Linked DNA regions of Homo sapiens: regions 2 and 3 are each linked to region 1. Evidence: fine-mapped expression QTL. A gene starts in region 1. Each other region holds a variant in brackets. All regions are shown on one strand. Distances are from middle to middle. Region 1 holds the start of ARL5B (ARF like GTPase 5B). Region 2 overlaps SLC39A12 (solute carrier family 39 member 12). Region 3 has its middle 24 kb from the start of ARL5B.

Region 1 (2,761 bases):
TCTCCTGCCTCAGCCTCCTGAGTAGCTAGGATTACAGGCGCGTGCCACCACACCCGGCTAATTTTTGTATTTTTAGTAGAGACAGGGTTTCACCATGTTGGCCAGGATGGTCTCCATCTCTTGACTTCGTGATCCACCCGCCTCAGCCTCCCAAAGTGCTGGGATTACAAGCATGAGCCCCAGCGCCCAGCCAAATGTCTGCATCTTCATACAAAAATGCTTTGTTCTTTTCAGAAATGGTTTCTTAGAAATCCGAAAGCCAGAAAAAAAAAAAAAAAGCAGAATGTGGTTTACATCCATGTCTAACAATTGAAGAAGCTGTTACGGAATCTAAAGTTTGTTTTGTGATAATGAAGCTAGGACTAAAAATGTCCTTTTAAGCCATTACTTACACAAACACAAAATTATTCACATTTATGGTCCAACTGATAGTCATGAAAGTTAAGTTTGCATAGGGTCAGTACATTCTTTTTCCTCTACATAGGAGGTTGAAACTTGCCTTTAATGTTGTAACGTTGGAGCATATTATCCTGCATCTAAGTCTTAAAGGGTCTTTAAACCATAGCACTGGGAGGACGTAAGTCATACATTCTCCTTGTACAGGTTAACTCAAGAGTTTGGCATGTTAAAAGGCCACGTTGCCAAGGTTAAAATCCAACCATCTGACTGAAGTCAGAGTCTAAAAAAATTTTAAGCTTGCTCCTCCGTCAACTGGTTTCAAGGACATTCAGTTTCGTTTCATGCCAGGCTGTGAAGCTTTTCTTTTCAATGCTAGAACCTAACCATGGAAAGTGGAATTGAAAACAATTACACAGCGAATTGGCTTATGCGTGGACTTCGATCTGGGATCCACGAACATACCTAATGCTTGGCAAAATGGAGAGGGGTGCTATGTGTTATTATTATGTGTTATTATTAATCACATAACTGAACTCTGTGGCTCCAGGCCTTCCATGGCTCGTCTCCCAATCAATTCTTTTCAGAACTAAGAATCACGACAGGGGCCGGGCGCGGTGGCTGAGCCTGCAATCCCACCACTTTGGGAAGTCGAGGCAGGAAGATCGCTTGAGCCCAGGAAATTGAGTCCCCCTGGGCAACACAGCCCGACCTCGTCTGCAATCGATCAATCAATCAATGAGTACATAAATGCATAAGCCAATGAATGAATACGTGAATGAATAGATTAATAAATGAATGAAGAAGAATCACGGCAGAACTCCTAACCCCTAGCACGCCTGCCTAGGGGAACAGGAATAAGTCAGGAAAGAAACACTCTTCACTTCTGTGAGTTTTCTAAGAGCAGCAAACGGCGGCTGCTCACTTAGAGAACCTATGGTCTTTCCTGGTTTTAGAGGTCAGGGAAGCAGCTGCTAGCAGCAGAGACTCAAATCAAAGGGGAGTCCCACAAACGTTTTGAAGGCTGACATCAGAAGGAGCACGCACCAAGGGAAATTTCCCACCCCCCCGCGATACCGCAAATTCCCAGCCGCTGGCCGTTTGGGACTCTCCTACCGGAAGTGAAACCGAAGAAAACGCCACGTCGAAGGCGTGGGTTGCCGTAAGTGCGCCGTCGTCACGCGCCTAGCTTCCGGCGATGGGTGGTCCTGGGATCCGGAGGGGAGGCGGGGTGGAGGCGGGGCTTGGGGCTGTGGAGAGGCTGTGGTAGGTAGGTGGGTACAGACCGAGGGGACTACGGGTCGGCGTTGGGCTCAGTGGGCTCGAAACAAAGGGCTGTCCGGTGGGGATTCGTCGCGGCGCCTTCTGAGTGGTCGGGTCGAGGCTTCTCGGCCTAGCAGTGCCCTCGCTGCGCGATCTCAGGCGGGTTCTCCTCGGCTCCGCGCAGCCCGCGCCGCGGTGGGGGACCCGGCGCAGCGGCACCTGCTGCCGAGGGACCCCGCGGCCCGCCCCGGTGCTCGTGATGGGGCTGATCTTCGCCAAACTGTGGAGCCTCTTCTGTAACCAAGGTGAGAAGAATGGAGCTGCGCGGCGGCTCGAATCCGAGGCAGAGGGTCCCGCCGCCGATGGGGACACCGGAGACAGGGGACAGAGCGTTCGGAGACGCGGAGGAGGAAGGGACTTAGGCCAGGGGGCGGGCAGAAACTCAGTGTTTTAGACCTGGAGGACGTACAGGAGAGACCTGACGTGTGGGAGAAATAGGGAGGCAGAAGAGAAGGTATTTGGCGTCCCAGAATCCAAACTGAGAATGTTTGGATATTGGCGAAGTAAAGCGGGATACAGCTAATGATGCCAGGAGGCGTATGGAGGGCCTTTCTCGTCTTTATTGAAGCGTGCTTGTGTCTATGTGTATCCCCAGGATAAGTGTCCGCCCAGAAACCTAGAACTTTTTTTTTTTTGAGTAATGTAGGTGCTTTGTTTTCCCGCCCTGCAGTTTGAGCCGTAAGCCAGTGCACTTTCACTCTGATTTCGCCTCCTTTCCTCTAGGACTTGGGAATGAGTTGTCCTATTCAGATGCACGAGTTTTCCAGCATCTTCATTGTAAACTTTTTTTTTTAAAGCATTTAGTTCAGAAACTAAATGCTTTTCGGTTTTGTGTAAGACGTTACGTGTCCGTAATTAGTCTGTAACAGGTAATGAGACACCTGGAAGTGGCAGGTCCAAAGGGCCGAGAAGTTGCAAAACCTGTTCTGAATCAGAATGAGATGTGATGTCTTCTGAAGAGAGAAAACACCCAGACCAAAAAAGGGGCCGACGATAAGTTAAAGTTTGAGGCGTCCTTTGAACAGAATGGTTTCTTAGTAAT
Region 2 (2,761 bases), 620 kb before region 1:
TGTGGCGTTCTCTGTGTTTCCTGAATCTGAATGTTGGCCTGCCTTGCTAGATTGGGGAAGTTCTCCTGGATAATATCCTGCAGAGTGTTTTCCAACTTGGTTCCATTCTCCCCATCACTTTCAGGTACACCAATCAGACATAGATTTGGTCTTTTCACATAGTCCCATATTTCTTGGAGGCTTTGCTCATTTCTTTTTATTCTTTTTTCTCTAAACTTCCCTTCTCGCTTCATTTCATTCATTTCATCTTCCATCGCTGATACCCTTTCTTCCAGTTGATCGCATTGGCTCCTGAGGCTTCTGCATTCTTCACGTAGTTCTCGAGCCTTGGTTTTCAGCTCCATCAGCTCCTTTAAGCACTTCTCTGTATTGGTTATTCTAGTTTTACATTCTTCTAAATTTTTTTCAAAGTTTTCAACTTCTTTGCCTTTGCTTTGAATGTCCTCCCATAGCTCAGAGTAATTTGATCATCTGAAGCCTTCTTCTCTCAGCTCGTCAAAGTCATTCTCCATCCAGCTTTGTTCCGTTGCTGGTGAGGAACTGCGTTCCGCTGGAGGAGGAGAGATGCTCTGCGTTTTAGAGTTTCCAGTTTTTCTGTTCTGTTTTTTCCCCATCTTTGTGGTTTTATCTACTTTTGGTCTTTGATGATGGTGATGTACAGATGGGTTTTCGGTGTGGATGTCCTTTCTGTTTTTTAGTTTTCCGTCTAACAGACAGGACCCTCAGCTGCAGGTCTGTTGGAATACCCTGCCGTGTGAGGTGTCAGTGTGCCCCTGCTGGGGGGTGCCTCCCAGTTAGGCTGCTCGGGGGTCAGGGGTCAGGGACCCACTTGAGGAGGCAGTCTGCCGGTTCTCAGATCTCCAGCTGCGTGCTGGGAGAACCACTGCTCTCTTCAAAGCTGTCAGGCAGGGACATTTAAGTCTGCAGAGGTTACTGCTGTCTTTTTGTTTGTCTGTGCCCTGCCCCCAGAGGTGGAGCCTGCAGTGGCAGGCAGGCCTCCTTGAGCTGTGGTGGGTTCCACCCAGTTCCAGCTTCAGGGCTGCTTTGTTTACCTAAGCAAGCCTGGGCAATGGCGGGCGCCCCTCCCCCAGCCTCACTGCCGCCTTGCAGTTTGATCTCAGACTGCTGTGCCAGTAATCAGTGAGACTCCGTGGGCGTAGGACCCTCCGAGCCAGGTGTGGGATATAATCTCGTGGTGCGCCGTTTTTTTAAGCCGGTCTGAAAAGCGCAGTATTCGGGTGGGAGTGACCCGATTTTCCAGGTGCGTCCGTCACCCCTTTCTTTGACTAGGAAAGGGAACTCCCTGACCCCTTGCGCTTCCCAGATGAGGCAATGCCTCGCCCTGCTTCGGCTCACGCACGGTGCGCGCACCCACTGGCCTGCGCCCACTGTCCGGCACTCCCTAGTGAGATGAACCCAGTACCTCAGGTGGAAATGCAGAAATCACCCGTCTTCTGCGTCGCTCACGCTGGGAGCTGTAGACCGGAGCTGTTCCTATTCGGCCATCTTGGCTCCTCCCCCGTGATATCTTTTACAACAAAGGCAGCCTAATAACTATATCATTGGCATCTTGCAGTTAGCATTTTAAAAATTATATATATATATATATATATATATATATATATATAT[A/T]TATATATATATTTTTTTTTTTAATGGAATCTCACTCTTGTCGCCTAGCCTGCGGTGCAGTGGCACAGTCTCGACTCACTGCAACCTCCGCCTCCCAGGTTTAAACGATTCTCTTGCCTCAGCCTTTCAAGTAGCTGGGATGACAGGCACCCGCCACCATGCCTGGCTAATTTTTGTGTTTTTAATAGAGTCTGCGTTTCACCATATTGGCCAGGCTGGTCTTGAACTCTTGACCTCAAGTGATCTGCCAGCCTAGGCCTCCCAAAGTGCTGGGATTACAGGTGTGAGCCACCATGCCCAGCCTAAAAATTGCTATAGATTATACCTCTTTCCAAAATTTTTTGGACCATTTGATTTTCCTCTTCTTGAATTACCTGTTTGGTATCTTTTGCCTGATTTTCTGTTGGTGTGTTTGCTGTTATTGTTTATTGATTTATTAAGTGTTGATTATTGATAATTCATTATTGATTGCATCATGTATTTTATCAAATTTTCATGAAGTGCAGTGACATTTTTATGCTTAATAGGACATTTCTACCATTGATATTTTCCATTTTTTTCTAATTAGACCAATTCGCCCTTGGTCATAATAGACAAGGATGAATTTCAGATAGAAACAGTGAATCTCAGATAGAGAATTGATCTTTGCAGTTCTTTGTATGTTCACTACAGTTAGGAGGTGACCTGGTTTCTTGTCCTCTTTCTGACATCACAACAATGTGACTGTGGGTGAGCTGTTATCCTCTCTGAGCTAATGTTTCTTCAAAACTGAAAGGAGTGAATAGTTTTATCACTTGCAGGATTATGAGAAGTAAAAGGGGGGAAATATATATGTAAGAAAGGACGTGATAAATAGATGTAAATGAAAGGCAAATAAAATAAGCATTGCATAAGACTTTGTAGCCAGGACAACCTGAAAGACCTGGCAGGAAAGAAGTGCTGCTAGAAGGCACAGCTAGGCCAGGTGCAGGGGCTCACACCTGTAATCCCAGCACTTTGGGAGGCCAAGGTGGGCGGATCACCGTCAGGAGATGGAGACCATCTTGGCCAACATCATGAAACCCCATCTCTACTAAAATACAAAAAATTAGCCAGGCATGGTGGTGCGTGCCTGTAGTCCCAGCTACGTGGG
Region 3 (2,761 bases), 25 kb after region 1:
TTTTAACTCCACCGTTTTTGCTCACAGACCTCTTTGGGAATGTGATAAAAGTTGCCTACGTAGAAAAATGACTCATAATTACAGAGTTAGGAATTTTGAGTAGAAGGTTAGGAATTTCAGGTACCTAGGCTTAAGAGTTCTGCTACACACGGAACACTCAGATTTCTTCTGAAAGACACCAGAAACTAGTAAGATTTCATTCTGCCTGTTATTTTTTAATCAGTAAACTTAAGATTGGTATCTTTTTTAAAGCATGTTTTATGTAGGTATTTTTGTAGGTATAATGAATGCATTAAACTGTTCGTGGTTAAAGTGTACAATTTGAAAAGCTTTGATGTGTATACATTTGCAAAATCTTCACCACAATCTGGGTAATGAAAATACCTGTCACTCCAAAAGTTTCCTAGTGTCGCTTTGTAATCCTCCCTTCTGCTCCACTCCCCATCCGCAGATAATCACTGGTTTTGACTAATTATCCCCAATTTTGTGATTTAAAACAGTCTAAAATTAAGGTGCCAGCAGGGCTGTGTTTCTCCTCAAGGTTCAGGAGAGAACTCATCCTCACCTTTTTCAGCTTTTAGAGGCTGTGTGCATTTCTCGGCTCATGGCCCCTTCCTCACATCACTCCACCATCTGGCTTCTGTCAACACATCTACCCATTCTCATCATCCTATGCTTTTCTCATATTAAGGACCCTAGTGTTTCTAACTAGGTTTTCCTTGATAATCCAGGATAACCTTCCCATCTTGAGGCCCTTATGCCAGGTAAGGTAACACATTCACATGTCTTGGGGAATTAATTCTACTGCATGTGAGCTAAAAGAGCATCCTGAACAAAACCCTCACATGCTGGCAGGTGGCCACTTGCGATACTGGCTCACTGCAACCTTTGCCTCCCAGGCTCAAGTGATCCTCCCATCTCAGCCTCCCGAGTAGCTGGGACCACAGGCATGTGCCACTACACCCGCGTAATTTTTTTGTACTTTTTGTAGAGATGTCCCGCCATGTTCCCCAGGCTAGTCTCGAACTTTTGGGCTCAAGCCATCTGCCCGCTTCGACCTCTCAAAGTGCTGGGTTTACAGGCGTGAGCCACTGTGCCCGGCTCATACACTGATTCTTGATTTAACCTTTCTTTGTTTAAAAAACCCTTCCTACTAAGAAATATGTATACTCCTCAGCAAATTTGAATTCACATCTGAGATTTTTGACCTGACATTTTTGTGAGGACTTGGAGATTTGATGTTGCTATACTTGAGGATTATTCTGCAACAGAAACAAATGTAGTTT[C/G]AGTTTGATAATAACAATGAATGCACGTCTTCCAAAATGGGATTGGCTGTTTTATCACTTCTTTCAAATTAGTCACCTTATTTTGGCAGATGACACTATATGACTCAACATCAAGATACTTCATACTTGATAGGGATCATCTGATCTATGGCTCTGTTCTGAATTATGGTATTTTCATATTCAATTTAAAATAACACTGCAACCTCTTCTTCCTGGGTTCAAGCAACTCTCATGCCTCAACCTCCCAAGTAGCTGGGATTACAGGCATGCACCAATTACAGGGAAATTTTTTTGTACTTTTACAAAAAACTGACCTCAGGTGATCTGCCCGCCTCGGCCTCCCATAGTGCTGGGATTACAGGCGTGAGCCACCACGCCCGGCCCAGATGCATGTGGTTCTAAAGCTGTTCACTACCAGGGAGAAAGGTTCAAGAAACTTGAGCTCTGGCTTCGTTTTCTCTTACTGACAGAATGAAAGGGAAATGAAAAAATTTCCTCCATATATGCTTTGCCCAAAAACAAAGTTCAGGGGATGCATAGGCATAATGGAAGTCACTTGGCTAGCAACGGCAATTTGTATTCAGAACAGGGACCCTGTGGCTCAGAAGAGGTGGAGAGAAAAGGCTTGGAGAAGGATTTCACATTCTGAGGGAATTCTTAGCTATATGCCTGCCTGAGCTAAATAGGAACTCTAACTCCCTCTGCTTATAAACAAAACAAAAAGCAAACACGGATGCAAACAAGAACAGTGGCTCCTTTTCAAACCTGTTTTTTCTTTCCTTGTCAAAGTTATAATTTCCTTTGAGAAAATTATAACTTACATGACGTGCATGAAACAATGTGCACAATTTAACAAATCAGTAACTTGAACATATGTCCCCACCACTTATTATTGTATCCAGTATTGCTCTCTGGAAATGGCCAGCTTCATGTGGTTGTAGTTACCACCCTCATTCAAAAGTACTTGAGACCATGTTCCACCTCTGAGGGTTTCCCAGGGTGAGATTAGGGCTGTGGCTGATTCTACCCCCAAACCCACAGAATGCCCCAGTGATAGTTATATGTATGACTGTGGTAAGGAGAAATTTGATAGGGAAAAAGAGACGTTGATTTCCCATCCATCTCCTTTATTTCCTGGAGCCTGTGGCATACATGAAACCACCATTGCAAAATAATAACTGAGACAGTGAAAGAGATCTGACCCAACCAACTCCATCTTTTAAGAGCTTTTAACCTCCAAGCTGTCCTTGTTCATTCCTGGGAGCTGGCTGAACTAACTTTGGGAGGAACTCAGTTTATAGTTTGAAACAAAAACGATAGCCCTTTCCCAAGACAAATCCCCTTCTTGGCTGGTGACTAGACTTCCTTTGTGGGACTAACACATTAGCCAAAAGATTAGAAATTATTGTTTAGGAGTCATGCAGCTGTAGGCTGCACGATTCTAAACCTCCCCAGATTGCTCCTGGGGATAACAT

The links.
Region 2: its variant is fine-mapped to the expression of ARL5B in monocytes (Quach 2016, PIP 0.95).
Region 3: its variant is fine-mapped to the expression of ARL5B in whole blood (TOPMed, PIP above 0.99).

What each region holds. Positions count from the first base shown.
Region 1 is chr10:18,657,720-18,660,480 of GRCh38, forward strand. It overlaps ARL5B (ARF like GTPase 5B), which reads left to right and starts at 1,712. Exons shown (of 6, transcript NM_178815.5): 1 at 1,712-1,964. The coding sequence starts at 1,919. It also overlaps a transcript of NSUN6 not described here. RefSeq lists enhancers at 541-660, 1,361-1,490 and a silencer at 1,801-1,880.
Region 2 is chr10:18,035,155-18,037,915 of GRCh38, forward strand. All of the region lies in intron 12 of SLC39A12 (solute carrier family 39 member 12), which reads left to right. Among named protein-coding and RNA genes, the nearest start is that of SLC39A12-AS1, 26 kb to the left of the region's middle. RefSeq lists enhancers at 657-1,246, 1,247-1,835. The variant A/T (reference allele first, on the strand shown) is at 1,630.
Region 3 is chr10:18,682,259-18,685,019 of GRCh38, forward strand. No RefSeq gene overlaps it. Among named protein-coding and RNA genes, the nearest start is that of ARL5B, 24 kb to the left of the region's middle. The variant C/G (reference allele first, on the strand shown) is at 1,287.